Linked DNA regions of Homo sapiens: region 1 is linked to region 2. The links come from fine-mapping of genetic effects on gene expression. Tissue or cell type: aorta. Region 2 holds a variant in brackets; the other region holds the start of a gene. All regions are shown on one strand. Distances are between the middles of the regions.

Region 1 (8,118 bases), 200 kb after region 2:
ATTTTGATTTGTCTATTAGATCTAGGGCAGGGGTCCCAAGCCCCAGGCTACGGACTGGTACCAGTCCATGGTCTGTTAGGAACCCGGCCATGCAGCAGGAAGTGAGTGGTGGGTGAGTGAGCATTACCGCCTGAGCTCCACCTCCTGTCAGATCAGCTGCGGCATTAGATTCTCACAGGAGGGCGAGCCCTATTGTGAACTGCATGTGCGTGACCCTTAGGAGAATCTAATGCCTGATGATCTGAGGTGGAACAGCTTCATCCTGAAACCTCCCTCCTACCCCATCCATGGAAAAACTGTCTTGCAAGAAACCAGTCCCTGATGCCAAAAAGGCTGGGGACCACTGATCTAGGAAATCCTGTATAGTTACTATTATTTACTTCATTCCAAGGCTTAGGACTATAATTCTAGCCATGCAAGGCAAATACATGGCAGCAATCATACAATAAAAGGGAATTATAAGTAAGTTAGTTCAAAATCTTCACCATTACGAGGAGGAAATAAAACACCTCAAAGTATATAGTATACTGTAGTGGGTCTGTGACATCAATTATTGTTGTATATTTAAATATCTTTGACCTGACTGCAGTAAAGGACTATTTTATTTTTTTGAGACAGGGTCTCACTTTGTCACCTAGGCTGGAGTTCCGTTGCATGATGGCTCACTGCAACCTCCGCCTCCCAGGCTCAAGCGATCCTCCCACCTCAGCCTGCTGAGTAGCTGGGACTACAGGCATGTGCCACCACACCTAGCTAACTTTTGTATTTTTTGTAGAGATGAGGTTTCTCCACATTGGCCAGGCTGGTCTCAAACTCCTGAGCTCAAGCGATCCTCCCGCCTCAGCCTCCCAAAGTGCTGGGATTACAGGCATGAACCACCATGCCTGGGCCCCAGAGATAAGCTTGTAGGGGACTTGGAGCTAGAGGCAGAGTCCTGAACTGGCTACAGGCACTGGACATTTCTGTTGAGGAAAATATCTGTGTGAAATAAACAGCCAAGAGCTTCATAACTACTCCCTTCTCTTAAAAATTCCTCCTAGGCTGGACGTGGTAACTCACGCCTGTAATCCCAGCACTTTGGGAGGCTAAGGCATGAGGATCTTTTGAGCCCAGGAGTTCAAGACCAGCCTGGGCAACATAGTGAGACCCTGTCTCTACAAAAATAAAATCAACATAATTAGCCTGGTGTAGTGGGCATGCACCTGTAGTCCAAGCTACTCAGGAGGCCGAGGTGGGAGGATCAACTGAGCCCTGGAGGTCGAGGCTGCAACAAGCCATGATCACACCACTGCACTCCAGCCTAAGCAACAAAGTGAGACTCTGTCTCTAAAACATAAAGTGGGAGACTTCCCCACAACAGTGAGAATGAAACAAGTTCTACTGTCCTTTCATCATTTCTGAGCAGTTTGAGATTATCAACAAATGAGCTCACTGATTTTGCAGACATACTTATGTTTTGAATGTATTTCATATAATTTATTATTGGTTTCAGAATCATTTCCTTTTTAAGTAATTTTTTTGGCTCAGCTAATATCTTAGTTGTACCTACCTTTCCATACTTTGTGAGCTTTCTTATTTATACTTAATCTTTCTAAATATACTTGTAAAAATGTAAATGTTAGATCGTTCACTGATAGGCACCAATATCTTTAACAGAAAAGGTTAATTCAAACAAATGTCAGGCTAAACTGACAACAGAAATAAAACTGGTCTTCCCAAGTTCAGTTCCTTGTGGATTTGTTATATTGCTACATATTACACCTAGTTTTATGTGTCTAGATGCTCTGTATCTAGTATACTCTTGAGAGCCTCCAAATATTAATATTTCTTTTTTTTTTGAGATGGGGTGCAGTGGCGTGATTTCAGCTCACTGCAACCTCGGCTTCCCACGATCAAGCGTCCTCCTGCCTCAGCCTACTGAGTAGCTGGGATTACAGGTGCCCACCACCACGCCCAGCTAATTTTTTCTATTTTTAGTACAGATGGGGTTTCAACATGTTGGCTAGGCTGGTCTTGAATTCCTGACCTCAAGTGATTCAACCACCTCGGCCTCCCAAAGTGCTGAGATTACAGGTGTGAGCTACCGTGCCCAGCGAATATTTCTAGATTTTAGCAGTTGCATAAATTCTACTCCAGGAGGCTTAATATAATTGTCCTTAATATAAATGTCACATTTCAAATGACATTCAAAAATGTAAAATGATCAATTTAGAAAAAAAAATTACTCCTACCCACTTCCTCTTTTTCTTTTTCTTTTTTTTTTTTTTGAGACAGAGTTGTACTCTGTCGCCCAGGCTGAAATGCAGTGGCACAATCTCGGCTCACTGAAACCTACGCCTCCTGGGTTTAAGCGATTCTCCTGCCTCAGCCTCCCAAGTAGCTGGGACTACAAGCGCGTGCTACCAAGCCCGGCTAATTTTTTGTATTTTTTAGTAGAGACAGGGTTTCACCATGTTGCCCAGGCTGGTCTCCAACTCCTGAGCTCCGGCAATCCACACGCCCCGGCCTCCCAAAGTGCTAGGATTACACGTGTGAGCCGGCGTGCCCGGCCTCACTTCCTCTTTCATACAAGGTCAGTTCTCACCTATTTCAACCATCAATATGATCGTATTCAAAAAGACCAGGAAGATGATGAAGTTTTTGAAGAGAGGACCTGTTGTCTCTTAAGGAAATGTACAGAGTGGAGTTCTTTCTGATTTATGCAGCTGAAATAATAAGAGCAATAACATAAGCAGTGAAAATGAGACAGTGGAGTATGGGGAGCAAAAAATAAGTCATTAGGCAGATGATCAACAGCCAGGATAAAAATGAGTGACATGAAAGGATACACTCAAGGACCCATCCGGCCCACAAAGAAAGAGGTGGCCTCTGACTGCAGCGCACATGAAGCCTGCTCAACAGCCTCTGGGCATGTGAAATCTGTTCTATACGCTGAGGCTTTATAGAGAAACGCACTAGCTGGTGTTGATCTCCCAATACAAGTTTCTTCTGGCGGGAAGGATCTACAACAAAAATTAAAAAGGGATAGTGGATAAATACAAACAAAATAGACCAGGTAGGGTTGGGGGCAGGGATACTGGTCAGGTAATGGGTTCCCCTAATGCCTTACTGCTAGTCCTTCTCTTCTCACAGCAACTAAGAATTCTGTTTGGAGTGAGAGCAAATGTATTGCTTATGACCAACACTGTCCATGCCCACAAAAGCAGCAGGCTCACTCTCAAAGTTTTAAGAGTCTTTGACAGAAACTCTTCCCAATCATCCATGGCTAGTGGCTATCCTAGGCCTAAAAGTGAAAGACGTGGATTCTATCTCTTCAGTTTTATTTACAAGCCCTTGATTTATCAAGTTTGGTAAACCAGCAACTAAACCTCCCCAGAATTTTCCACTCTTAAATGTAGAGGATGTGGATAGGAGTCTTAAATTTAAATTAGTGAAGAAATAGGCTGCTGACCAAGTAACTCCCTGATAGTGTGCCGCGGCACAGCTTGGCTCAAGCCTTGCAAATGCTCAATGAGAGAGAAAGTATCGATGAGACGTGAACGAATGGCATCAGCTCGGGGAAGCTGCATCTGCTCTTCTTGTTGGTAAGCGGCCATGTCTGCTAAGAAAATGTAAGCATCAAGTGTCATTTCATTCTTGGAGCTGCACCAAGGATTACAGGTTTTCTGTCCCCTCCTCCCCACCCTCTTTACCCTTAAGATTCCTTAATGTACCCACATCTACGAACTAGGAGCAGTTGGGAAGAACAAACATTCTACTAGGACTCAGGGTGTTTTGAAACAAAAGGGGCTAAGTGGTAAAGACATTGCACAGTCGACCAAGCGGCCAGGCATCTTCACTTTGTGATGGCATTTCTAATTAAAACTCATTAAAAACAAAACAAAACAAACAAAAACACCGCAAGAAAAAGGAGCAGCCACAAGGGCAGGGGCCCGGGGCTGGACAAAGAATCTGGGTCCCACCTGTGCCTGAGACAATCGGGCAATGAGGTGGAGTTGGGGGAGGTCTTGGCCTGCTCACGCAAGAGAAACCAAGTGCAGAGAAATTGGACAAAATGCCAAAGCCTGACATTTTGAAAATGGGTCCCGTCCCAAGTGTGTCCACTCCAACACTCCTTCGGGGGCTAGCTCCTTCTCTCCTCCATTCTCGCTTCTGGGCCTCACCTCAGCCCAGGTTCTCTTTGCCCACTCAGTCCTTATTTCACGCTTCCGCCTCCAGCTCAGGTGCCCCGAGCCTGGCTACCCCTATGCAAGACGAGCTCAGGGCCGGCTCCCAGCCTCACTGCGCCCCATTCCCCGCCCCGCTCGACCCCCAGGTTTCGGCTCACCCCGGGACCCGGCCCTAGCCCCTACCCACAGCCCAGGACCATGCGGAGCAACGCTCGCCCAGCCACTCGCCGCCTAGGCCCCGCCCCGCCCCGCTCTCCGGCCACTCAGCGGTAACCAGCTGGTCCCGCCCGCCGGACGAAGGCGACGCGCAGCCAATCAGCGGCTGCCACACAGCGGCCCGAGCCGGGTTTGGGGGTTGGGACCTCCGGCTGCAGGTCCCCTGGGCCAGACGCGCCAGCGCAGGCAGCCGGTTTGTGGTCGCGCGCCCGACCTCCGCAGTCCCAGCCGAGCCGCGACCCTTCCGGCCGTCCCCACCCCACCTCGCCGCCATGCGCCTCCGCCGCCTAGCGCTGTTCCCGGGTGTGGCGCTGCTTCTTGCCGCGGCCCGCCTCGCCGCTGCCTCCGAACTCACGGACGACAACTTCGAGAGTCGCATCTCCTACACGGGATCTGCGGGCCTCATGCTCGTCGGGTTTTTCGCCCCCTGATGACGCCACTCTGCCAAGGCGGGGGAAGAAGGGCCGGGCTGGGCCGGGGCCGGGGGCGAGGGCGCGGGGAACTGTTGGGCCTACGCAGCGCCGGCGCCCTTCATTCCTGTGGGCCCCTGCTGTGGCGGGCACATTTCTCATTCCCGGGAGCTGGAGGTGCCTCGCCGAGAGCGGTGGAGTCGGTGCTGATCGGCCCAAGGAAAACCCGAAGGCTGCGCTCACGCAGGGCCTCATCCTTATCTCGGTGCTCTTGTGGCACTTCCTATTTGCAGAGGGTTTTGCCACCCCTTCCCCCAGTTCAATATGTAGCTATATTGTTTCTGCATGAGTCAGTATTAATGTTACTCCAGTCTACAGACTAGACATCCCAAAGCCTTGTAGTGGAAGCGGACGTTTCACCAAATGCAGAAGTCCTGGATCCCTAGGGTATTTCCTTTCATCTTACCTCACGCCGCACAGCCATTGGTTTCTAGCCAAGGTCACTGAGTGGCTGCAGAATGGTCCTAAGTGCTTTCTTGAGGCAGGCAATTTGTCCGTCACATGGTGTACAGTTTCTCCCTTCAGCTGATCACTTACATCTCAGTACCGGCAGATACCTCTGTCCAAACGAAAAGAGTACCTGAACAAGAATAATTCCATCATAATCTGTCCATATTGTCCATTTTAATTAGGATTTCTTTAAAATGTCAATACTCCGAATAGGAACAGCTCCAGTCGACAGCTCCCAGCATGAGTGACGCAGAAGACGGGTGATTTCTGCATTTCCATCTGAGGTACCCGGTTCATCTCAATAGGGAGTGCCAGACAGTGGGCGCAGGTCAGTGGGTGCGCGCACTGTGCACGAGCCGAAGCAGGGCGAGGCATTGCCTCACTCGGGAAGCGCAAGGGGTCAGGGAGTTCCCTTTCCTAGTCAAAGAAAGTGGTGACAGACAGCACCTGGAAAATCGGGTCACTCCCACCCGAAAACTTCGCTTTTCCGACGGGCTTAAAAAACAGCGCACCAGGAGATTATATCCCGCACCTGGCTCGGAGGGTCCTACACCCACGGAGTCTCGCTGATTGCTAGCACAGCAGTCTGAGATCAAACTGCAAGGCGGCAGCGAGGCTGGGGGAGGGGTGCCTGCCATTGCCCAGGCTTGCTTAGGTAAACAAAGCAGCCGGGAAGCTCGAACTGGGTGGAGCCCACCACAGCTCAAGGAGGCCTGCCTGCCTCTGTAGGCTCCACCTCTGGGGGCAGGGCACAGACAAACAAAAAGACAGCAGTAACCTCTGCAGACTTAAATGTCCCTGTCTGACAGCTTTGAAGAGAGCAGTGGTTCTCCTAGCACGCAGCTGGAGATCTGAGAACGGCCAGACTGCCTCCTCAAGTGGGTCCCTGACCCCTGACCCCCAAGCAGCCTAACTGGGAGGCAACCCCCAGCAGGGGCAGACTGACACCTCACACGGCCAGGTACTCCAACAGACCTGCAGCTGAGGGTCCTGTCTGTTAGAAGGAAAACTAACAAACAGAAAGGACGTCCACACCAAAAACCCATCTGTACATCACCATCATCGAAAACCAAAAGTAGATAGAACCACAAAGATGGGGAAAAAACAGAGCAGAAAAACTGCAAACTCTAAAAAGCAGAGCACCTCTCCTCCTCCAAAGGAACACAGTTCCTCACCAGCAACGGAACAAAGCTGGACGGAGAATGACTTTGACGAGCTGAGAGAAGAAGGCTTCAGACGATCAAATTACTCTGAGCTACGGGAGGACATTCAAACCAAAGGCAAAGAAGTTGAAAACTTTGAAAAAAATTTAGAAGAATGTATAACTACAATAACCAATACAGAGAAGTGCTTAAAGGAGCTGATGGAGCTGAAAGCCAAGGCTCAAGAACTACGTGAAGAATGCAGAAGCCTCAGGAGCCGATGCAATCAACTGGAAGAAAGGGTATCAGCGATGGAAGATGAAATGAATGAAATGAAGCGAGAAGGGAAGTTTAGAGAAAAAAGAATAAAAAGAAATGAGCAAAGCCTCCAAGAAATATGGGACTATGTGAAAAGACCAAATCTACGTCTGACTGGTGTACCTGAAAGTGATGGGGAGAATGGAACCAAGTTGGAAAACACTCTACAGGATATTATCCAGGAGAACTTCCCCAATCTAGCAAGGCAGGCCAACATTCAGATTCAGGAAATACAGAGAATGCCACAAAGATACTCCTCGAGAAGAGCAACACCAAGACACATAATTGTCAGATTCACCAAAGTTGAAATGAAGGAAAAAATGTTAAGGGCAGCCAGAGAGAAAGGTGGGTTACCCTGAAAGGGAAGCCCATCAGGCTAACAGCAGATCTCTCGGCATAAACTCTACAAGCCAGAAGAGAGTGGGGGCCAATATTCAACATTCTTAAAGAAAAGAATTTTCAACCCAGAATTTCATATCCAGCCAAATTAAGCTTCATAAGTGAAGGAGAAATAAAATACTTTACAGACAAGCAAATGCTGAGAGATTTTGTCACCACCAGGCCTGCCCTAAAAGAGCTCCTGAAGGAAGCACTAAACATGGACAGGAACAAACGGTACCAGCCGCTGCAAAATCATGCCAAAATGTAAAGACCATCGAGACTAGGAAGAAACTGCATCAACTAATGAGCAAAATAACCAGCTAACATCATAATGACAGGATCAAATTCACACATAACAATATTAACTTTAAATGTAAATGGACTAAATGCTCCAATTAAAAGACACAGACTGGCAAATTGGATAAAGAGTCAAGACCCATCAGTGTGCTGTATTCAGGAAACCCATCTCACGTGCAGAGACACACATAGGCTCAAAATAAAAGGATGGAGGAAGATCTACCAAGCAAATGGAAAACAAAAAAAGGCAGGGGTTGCAATCCTAGTCTCTGATAAAACAGACTTTAAACCAACAAAGATCAAAAGAGACGAAGGCCATTACTTAATGATCAATTAAGTAATTAAGGCCTTGTTGATCAATTCAACAAGAAGAGCTAACTATCCTAAATATATATGCACCCAATACAGGAGCACCCAGATTCATAAAGCAAGTCCTGAGTGACCTACAAAGAGACTTAGACTCCCACACATTAATAATGGGAGACTTTAACACCCCACTGTCAACATTAGACAGATCAACGAGACAGAAAGTCAACAAGAATACCCAGGAATTGAACTCAGCTCTCCACCAAGCGGACCTAATAGACATCTACAGAACTCTCCACCCCAAATCAACAGAATATACGTTTTTTTCAGCACCACACCACACCTATTCCAAAATTGGCCACATAGTTG
Region 2 (8,000 bases):
ACACTAGGCATAAATGGGTTAAAATCTGTAAACTTGCTCAGGCCTCTCCCAGCCTAAAATAACAAATCCTCTCTCAACCCTGCATTTCCCTCTAACTCACCATATTTTCTCTTCTTCTCTCACATAAACTTCTCAAAAGTAGAGAGTACATTTGCAGCCTCATCTCCTCTTCCTCATCCTTCCTCAATTACTTTCAGTATAGCTCCCACCCCAACTGCTGCACTGAAATGGCTCTTGCTAGAGTCACCAAATGGATCCTAATTGCCTCGCCGAAGTCAAAGTATATTTCCAGACACATCTTACTAAACTTGCTCCTGTGCCTGACATGATCTTCTTGTAACTCCCCTCCCCATAGGCTTCCATGGCTTCATATACCCTCCTAGTTCTCCTTCTCTCTGAACGTTCCTTTATAATCTCCTTTATGAGATTTCTTCCTCTTCTAATCCCCCTTAAACAGCTTTTACAAATTACCTGAAATGAAAAAATTATAAGCTTCAGAGTTAGGTCTGACTCAAATTCCAACTCCACCTAGCACCAATTATTGTGACCTTAGACATGTAACTTAAAAACCTCTCTTACTCTGTTTTCTCATCAATAAAATGAAAATGCAGATACCTACTTGGGAGTACTATTATGGAAATGAGATCATACAGTATATGTGAAGAGTCATTCTCTCTTTTTTTCCTCCCCCTTACTTCCATATTCACCTGGCACCATCGTTCTGCCTACTCGCTCCTCAAATTCATCCCTCATCTCCAGCCCCACTACCAATGACCTCACTTTCTGGTTAAAGACTGGGTAGAATTTACCAGGCAGGAGAACAGAATATGGGAAATGCAAGGAAAGGAATCATCATGCACAAAAGCACAAGGTTTTGAAAGACTCAGCTGATGCTTTTTTTTAAAGGCAAATCTGATCATATTACTCCCTTGCCTAAAATTCTTCGGCTTCTCAGCATGATGTAAAAAGCCTTTCAGCATCTGGTCCCTACTTTGCATCCCTCCCTTGTATCTTCTCTTTATTCTAGCCCTACCAAACAACTTCTAATTCATGTGGGAAAGAATCAACATTAATCTGCAATGTGAATCCACAGTCCTAAAGTTTTCTACCCTATTCTGAAGTCTTTCTGAATAGGGAAACCAATTACATAGGAACAGACTTAACAGAAACAAGCTATAATATGGAGATTATAAAACAGAGTATCTTTAGTAACATGACAGGCTGGCCAAAAGCAAAGAATTAAATCTATGAGTGTAAGACTTTACAAATACATTTATAAATATAGAAGTATCAATTATTATAACTAGATTATAATCAATACTCCCCAGATAATCTGCAGCTACTAATTACCCAAGATTAACATAAAACTTACTTTCCAGGTTGAACTGCAAAGACTCTTCACTCGCCTCAGTCTCAGGACTAACCAGTTTCATTCTTAGACATAATTTATCATCCACGTCTGGGGCAGCCCCAGAATCCCCTTTTCCACTCCCAAGTATGGGATCATGGGTCTCCACCATGCTTTCAGACATGACATCACTGGTTGCTATGGTGCTTTCTGGATAGTTGCTAATACCTGAAAGAAGTGAGGCAGGGAGGAAGAAAAAAAGAACACTAAAATACAAACACAAAAAACAGCAATTCAAGGTCATCAATTTGCCTGTTTGGCTCCACAGCTCTGCAGGATTGAAGGAGGTTCCTAGGATAGATCCCTGTCATAAGTATCAACAACTACGAACTAGTATTGACACCTGGTCTTAAGAGGAGCAACAGGATTCAGTTCCACTTCTGCATCTGGACAAAGGATGCTGCATGAGCCCTCAGCCAACCCACATCTGCCAGCATCAGGCATAGGTAGCAGGAGACTCCAGACGGCATGATTGTTACCTCCCAGCACTGACTAGAGAAAACAAATAGGTTAATGTAGAAGACTACTGGCTGCTTCAGGGAAGGAGGATCTAAGTTTTCTTGCCCTGTCAAGCAGCAGACTGACTAATTAGCCAAGGTACTGAATAAATAGTACTTCTACCTTACTTCCTGTTCCATCCTTATAAAACATCTCTACATCACTACTTAGCACTCAGATTCTACTGCCTTGCAAGTAATAAGATAAAATTCTTTTAAGTATTCTCTTTCTTTCTTACTTCCCTCCACCCTTTCTTTCCTTCCTCTCTTTACCCCTCATCTCCTAGTAGTAAAATCACAGAACCAGACTTCATAACCCTATTTTCCCTAAAACAAAAATCAACCTTACCAGCCAGACCCAACTCCTCAGATCTAAAATATCACTTGTGTAGAGAATGATATCTCAGAAATTCTGCCTTAAATATCATTACTTTTTATTCACTCACCAATAGGAGTACTGTGTCTCTTGGGCTCCAATTTTAGGTGCCCAATAAGAGGTGGGGTTGCACCAGTCAATGGTGGGATGATATCACCTTCTTTAGGCAAAGTGAAATGAAATGGGGTTTCTGAAAAAAAAAAAAAAAAGAAAAAAGAAAGAAAGAAAAAATGATTTAAAAAAAACAGAAGTATAAAATAAGCAAAAATAATAAGAACTGCAAGAAATATTTCAATCACTCTTTTCCTTTGCTCCCAAATTCTGTCTCATTGCCACCACCCTCACCAGGCCTCCTGACTAACTCCCTTCTATCGTCTCTGCTCTCTTCACAGCCAACAACTATAGTACTGACACAAAGTAGACAACCAGAGGACAGGCAAATTGAGAAAGCCCGAAGTCTGCAAGACCTGAGGAACCTGGAGTCAAATGGAACACAAACATTTGATCTCCAAGACAGTACATCAGGGGATATTTAGCAATACAAATTTGGACAGTTTCAAATCAGAACAACATAATTTTGTGCAATGCTAACCTAAGGAGTTTGTTTATAAGCCTTAATAGTCTGTAGGATTCTCCAAAGCAAAGTTTGAAGTTAATACTTATAATGTACAATCTAATCAAAGAGATGACAGAGGATCTCACGGGTTAAAGGACTTCAAGATACTGACTGGTTCTAGCATAGAAATCCAAGGGTTTCATGGTTCAGCAGTACGGACCAGCATTCACTCTAGGCCTAAGTGTAATGTTCATACCTAAATCTCTGCACAACAGTAAATCCCTCATATATAAGCATCACCAGTGTACACATTTTAGTTATTAAATTATTATAAATAGAAAATATTTGTCAAGACATAAAGCTACTTTCTACCTAGGTCTCAGTTCCAAATTTTTGCTAATCAGAACTAGAAAACCGTCAAAAAATCACATTTTCTAATTTCCTAATTTATCTCTTTTTATAAAATGATACATTTGGGAGAAAATAAGAATTGCGCCAGACTGCCCTCTTAAAACTAATATATGAAAATTTCTTCTTACTTTCCTGGGATGGCTCAAAATAACTATAATCTGGCATACTTGGACACTACTACTTATGAAAGTAGTTTGCTTCTTTCATCTTTTTCCACTCCTATCTTTAATAGCAAGCACCGTGATAATTTTTTCCTTTAAAACAAAACAAAACAAAAAAATTTTTTTTTTTTTTTGAGACGGAGTCTGGCTCTGTCGCCCAGGCTGGAGTGCAGTAGCTCGATCTCGGCTCACTGCCAGCTCCGCCTCCCGGGTTCATGCCATTCTCCTGCCTCAGCCTCCCAAGTAGCTGGGACTACAGGCGCCCTCCATCACGCCCAGCTAATTTTTTGTATTTTTAGTAGAGATGGGGTTTCAAGAGAAAATGAATTAGTAATCTGAGGAGATAAAGAGAGAAAAAGAAATGGTCTTTAGAAATAAAGGATTAAAGTACATATGCTCAGCTAAAGAAACTGTAAAGAGGGGCCAGGTACCATGGCTCATGCCTGTAATCCCAACACTTTGGGAGACGAAGGCGGATGGATCACTTGAGGTCAGAAGTTCGAGACCAGCCTGGCCAAAATAATGAAACCCTGTCTCCACTAAAAATACAAAAATTAGCTGGGTGTAGTGGCAGGTGCCTGTAATCCCAGCTACTCAGGAGGCTGAGGCAGGAGAACTGCTTGAACCTGGGAGGCAGAGGTTGCAGTAAGCCAAGATGGTGCCACCGCACTACAGCCTGGATGACAGAGCGAGACCGTGCCTCAAAAAAACAAAACAAAACAAAACAAAAACAAACCTGTAAACAGTATGGATGAAGAATCTCAACATTACATCTAACTGACAGACATCCACCATAGTTACAGAAAAGAGAAATGGGTCAGGTAGATAAGCATTCATTCTGTGGTAGCCCCTTATAAAGCAAGTTGTTCTAATAAAGAACTTAGAAGAGATACAGAAACTTAAAAAACACCTTGCAAAGCCTCATATATTCCAGACTTCTGAAAATGTGCATGAAATCTTTAAGCAGACCTTTCTATGTGACATA[C/T]TATATTACGCAAATGCAATATGCAAGCATTAATCGCTGAAAATATATCCCTGTAACAAGGTTTCCTTTGCACAGTATTACATAAAACTTATGGAAAGTAATTTTAGCACCATTTATCTAACTGCATTACTATAACCTAATGGAAAATTCAGACTTTTACAGGCCCTAGGGACAGCACTGCCACTACTCTCCTCAGGTCTCCAATGCCTCATTCCTGGATTATTACCATAGCCTATCAATCACTTCCTCTGCCTAAAGTCTCCCACTCTCCCTAACCCCCATTCTTTCTGCACACTTTCTGCAGCCTTCCTAGAAAACATGGCTTTGTTAGCTCCTGGTCAAAAAACTTCAAGGTTTTCACTAGAAGACAAATTCCCAACTCTATAGTCAGCATTCAACTAACTAGTAGCAGCCTATATCTCCAGTTTTTCTTTAATTATTCACGTTCATAAAGCTTCTATTCAATGTCCTCCAAAGGTTTCCCATTTCTATGCTTTTGTTCCCTCATCTGGAAAACACCACACATCTACTCAAACTATTGCCAAATCCTTAAAAATACATTTGCTGGTATATTTTATCCTTTTAAACTTACGGAATTTTCCACATATTCCATTATTTCTCTAACATTTAGCAATCCTACATTCTTTAAATTATCAAATCCCTTCTTGTTTTTCCAGATAATCATGGGCTATCATGTTGTAGGTCAGCATACCAAACAATAATGAAGGATATGAATGAGGAAACAAAAGGAAACTCAATACTAATTTTGAAACCACCTGAGTGGGAGTATGTGTCCTTTAAGGACTTTAGAGAATAACTCCAAAGCAATATTTAAAACTCTAAATGTTAAGAAGGTCTCTCCTAACTTTCTGTTATAGTTTTAAACCCATTTTTCTTCTTTGTTCTTAAAAGAACTGGTTACCCCTAAGAATTTATTAAAAGCCATCTAGTTAAAAATGTAAGAATTTATATATCCGGCGATATCATGCATGAAGTCTACCCCAAAAGTCTGCCTCTGATATTAATAGCCAATTAAGATGGCATTCTATCAAGTAAGCAAATAAAGGTTATAGCTAGAGCCTAAAACACATCTAGATCCCCTGATCATTATTAACTATTACAGACTATTACTTATGGATTTAAAGACTTACTGAACTCCTTACAGTTTTTCACATCATCAACCCACCAAATATTTGTTCTGTGTTGAACAAGATTGGGCTTCCAAGTACCATCTTGCTTTTTTACAGGTTTAACAGGAGCTCTCCATAGACAGATACTTGAAGAGGTCTCCAAACTGTTAACAGTGACAAGTTATCTATAAATGGAGACATTTAAAGTAATTCTCTCTCTCCCTCTCTGTACTCACTCTCTCTTTTCCTTCCAACTCCCTCTCTCCCCACACCCTCCCCACTCAGAATCTCTACTTTGTATTGTTTGAATGTTTTTCAAAATTAAGCATGCATTATTTATTTACTTATTTATTTGAGACAGGGTCTCGCCCTGTTGCGCAGGCTAAAGTGCAGTGGTGCAATCTCAGCTTACTACAACCTCCGCCTCCCGAGTTCAAGTGATTCTCAAGCCTCAGCCTCCTAAGTAACTGGAATTACGCGTGCACGCCACCATGCCTGGCCAAGCATGTATCTTTTTTTAAAATCAATAAATCTATTAACAACAAAAAAGTGCTCTTCTAATAGTAGATGAACAAATGCAAAACTCACCCAATTCACACCTTTCATTCTGTCTTTTCAGACTGAAGAACCATTACTTTTTTTCTTTTTTTTTTTAATTATTATACTTTAAGTTTTAGGGTACATGTGCACAATGTGCAGGTTAGTCACACACGTATACATGTGCCATGCTGGTGTGCTGCACCCATCAACTCGTCATTTAGCATTAGGTATATCTCTCAATGTTATCCCTCCCCCGTCCCCCCACCCCACAACAGTCCCCAGAGTGTGATGTTCCCCTTCCTGTGTCCATGTGTTCTCATTGTTCTATTCCCATCTATGAGTGAGAACATGCGGTGTTTGGTTTTTTGTCCTTGCGATAGTTTACTGAGAATGATGATTTCCAATTTCATCCATGTCCCTACAAAGGACACGAACTCATCATTTTTTATGGCTGCATAGTATTCCATGGTGTATATGTGCCACATTTTCTTAATCCAGTCTATCATTGTTGGACATTTGGGATGGTTCCAAGTCTTTGCTATTGTGAATAGTGCCGCAATAAACATACGTCTGCATGTGTTTTTATAGCAGCATGATTTATAGTCCTTTGGGTATATACCCAGTAATGGGATGGCTGGGTCAAATGGTATTTCTAGTTCTAGATCCCTGAGGAATCGCCACAGTGACTTCCACAATGGTTGAACTAGTTTACAGTCCCACCAACAGTGTAAAAGTGAAGAACCATTACTTTTTAGATTACTATCATTTAAATTTGGCCAGGCCCAGTGGCTCATACCTGTAATCCCGGCACTTTGAGAGGCCAAGGCAGGTGGATTACTTGAGGCCAGGACTTCGAGACCAGCCTGGCCAACATGGCAAAACCCTGTCTCTACTAAAAATACAAAAATTAGCCAGGCATGGTGACATGTGCCTATAATTCCAGCTACTCAGGAGGCTGAGGCACAAGAATCACTTGAACCTGGGAGGCGGAGGTTGCAGTGAGCCGAGATCATGTCACTGCACTCCAGCCTGGGCGACAGAGCAAGACTCTGTTCCAAAAAAATAAAAATAAAATTAGTCTCTCAACATTTAGCAACTAAACAACTATATTTTTAAGTACAAAATAATATTTTTCTGTTCTTTTTGCAACGCTCTTCTGAATGATTTATTTTATACAATTTTCTAAGTTAAAAACTATTGTTCTCGGCTGAGCACGGTGGCTCATACCTGTAATCCTGGCACTCTGGGAGGCCAAGGTGGGTGGATTGCCTGAATCCAAGAGTTCGAGATCAGCCTGGGCAACATGGCAAAACCCTGTCTCTACAAAAAATCAGCCAAGCATGCTGGTACACGCCTGTAGTCCCGGCTTCTCGGGGCGGGGGGCTGAAGTGGGAGGATCACCTGAGCCCGGGAGGTCAAGGCTGCAGTGAACATTGATGGTGCCACTGCACTCCAGCCTGGGCGACAGAGTGAGACCCTGGCTCAAAAACAAACAAAAAAAAAGACAAAAAGCTATTATTCTCCCTTCATGTTCTAATTTGTAGTTAAAATTATTTTTATTTAACTTCTCCTCATAAATACTATTTTCCAACCACTGTCTTCATTACTTTTTGTTGTTTGCCCAAGAACTAAAATCATGAAATAAACACGAAATCACTAGCATTTTCAATAATCTGGATATTAATGTTAATAAAATAATAAGTTTTACTACGGCAAAAAAAGCTGACTCTGCCAATTAACAATGTAAACAAGAATTCATGAAGAATACTATTAAAATAATAGAATATCTCACTGTTTTAGAAGCTTCTTTTGCATTTAATTTAAAAGTACTCCAGGCCGGGCGCGGTGGCTCACGCCTGTAATCCCAGCACTTTGGGAGGCCGAGGCGGGCGGATCACGAGGTCAGGAGATCGAGACCATCCTGGCTAACACGGTG

The links. PIP is the estimated chance that this variant, and not a neighbour inherited with it, causes the effect.
Region 1: it holds the start of CATSPER2, and the variant in region 2 is fine-mapped to the expression of CATSPER2 in aorta (GTEx, PIP 0.98).

The regions. Positions count from the first base shown.
Region 1 is chr15:43,644,466-43,652,583 of GRCh38, forward strand. It overlaps CATSPER2 (cation channel sperm associated 2), which reads right to left and starts at 4,379. Exons shown (of 13, transcript NM_172095.4): 1 at 4,164-4,379; 2 at 3,452-3,598; 3 at 2,829-3,002; 4 at 2,585-2,653. The coding sequence starts at 3,596. It also overlaps the pseudogene PPIP5K1P1-CATSPER2 and the pseudogene PDIA3P2.
Region 2 is chr15:43,445,015-43,453,014 of GRCh38, forward strand. TP53BP1 (tumor protein p53 binding protein 1) reads right to left here. Exons shown (of 28, transcript NM_001141980.3): 13 at 2,352-2,471; 14 at 1,373-1,576. Among named protein-coding and RNA genes, the nearest start is that of TP53BP1, 44 kb to the right of the region's middle. The variant C/T (reference allele first, on the strand shown) is at 4,395.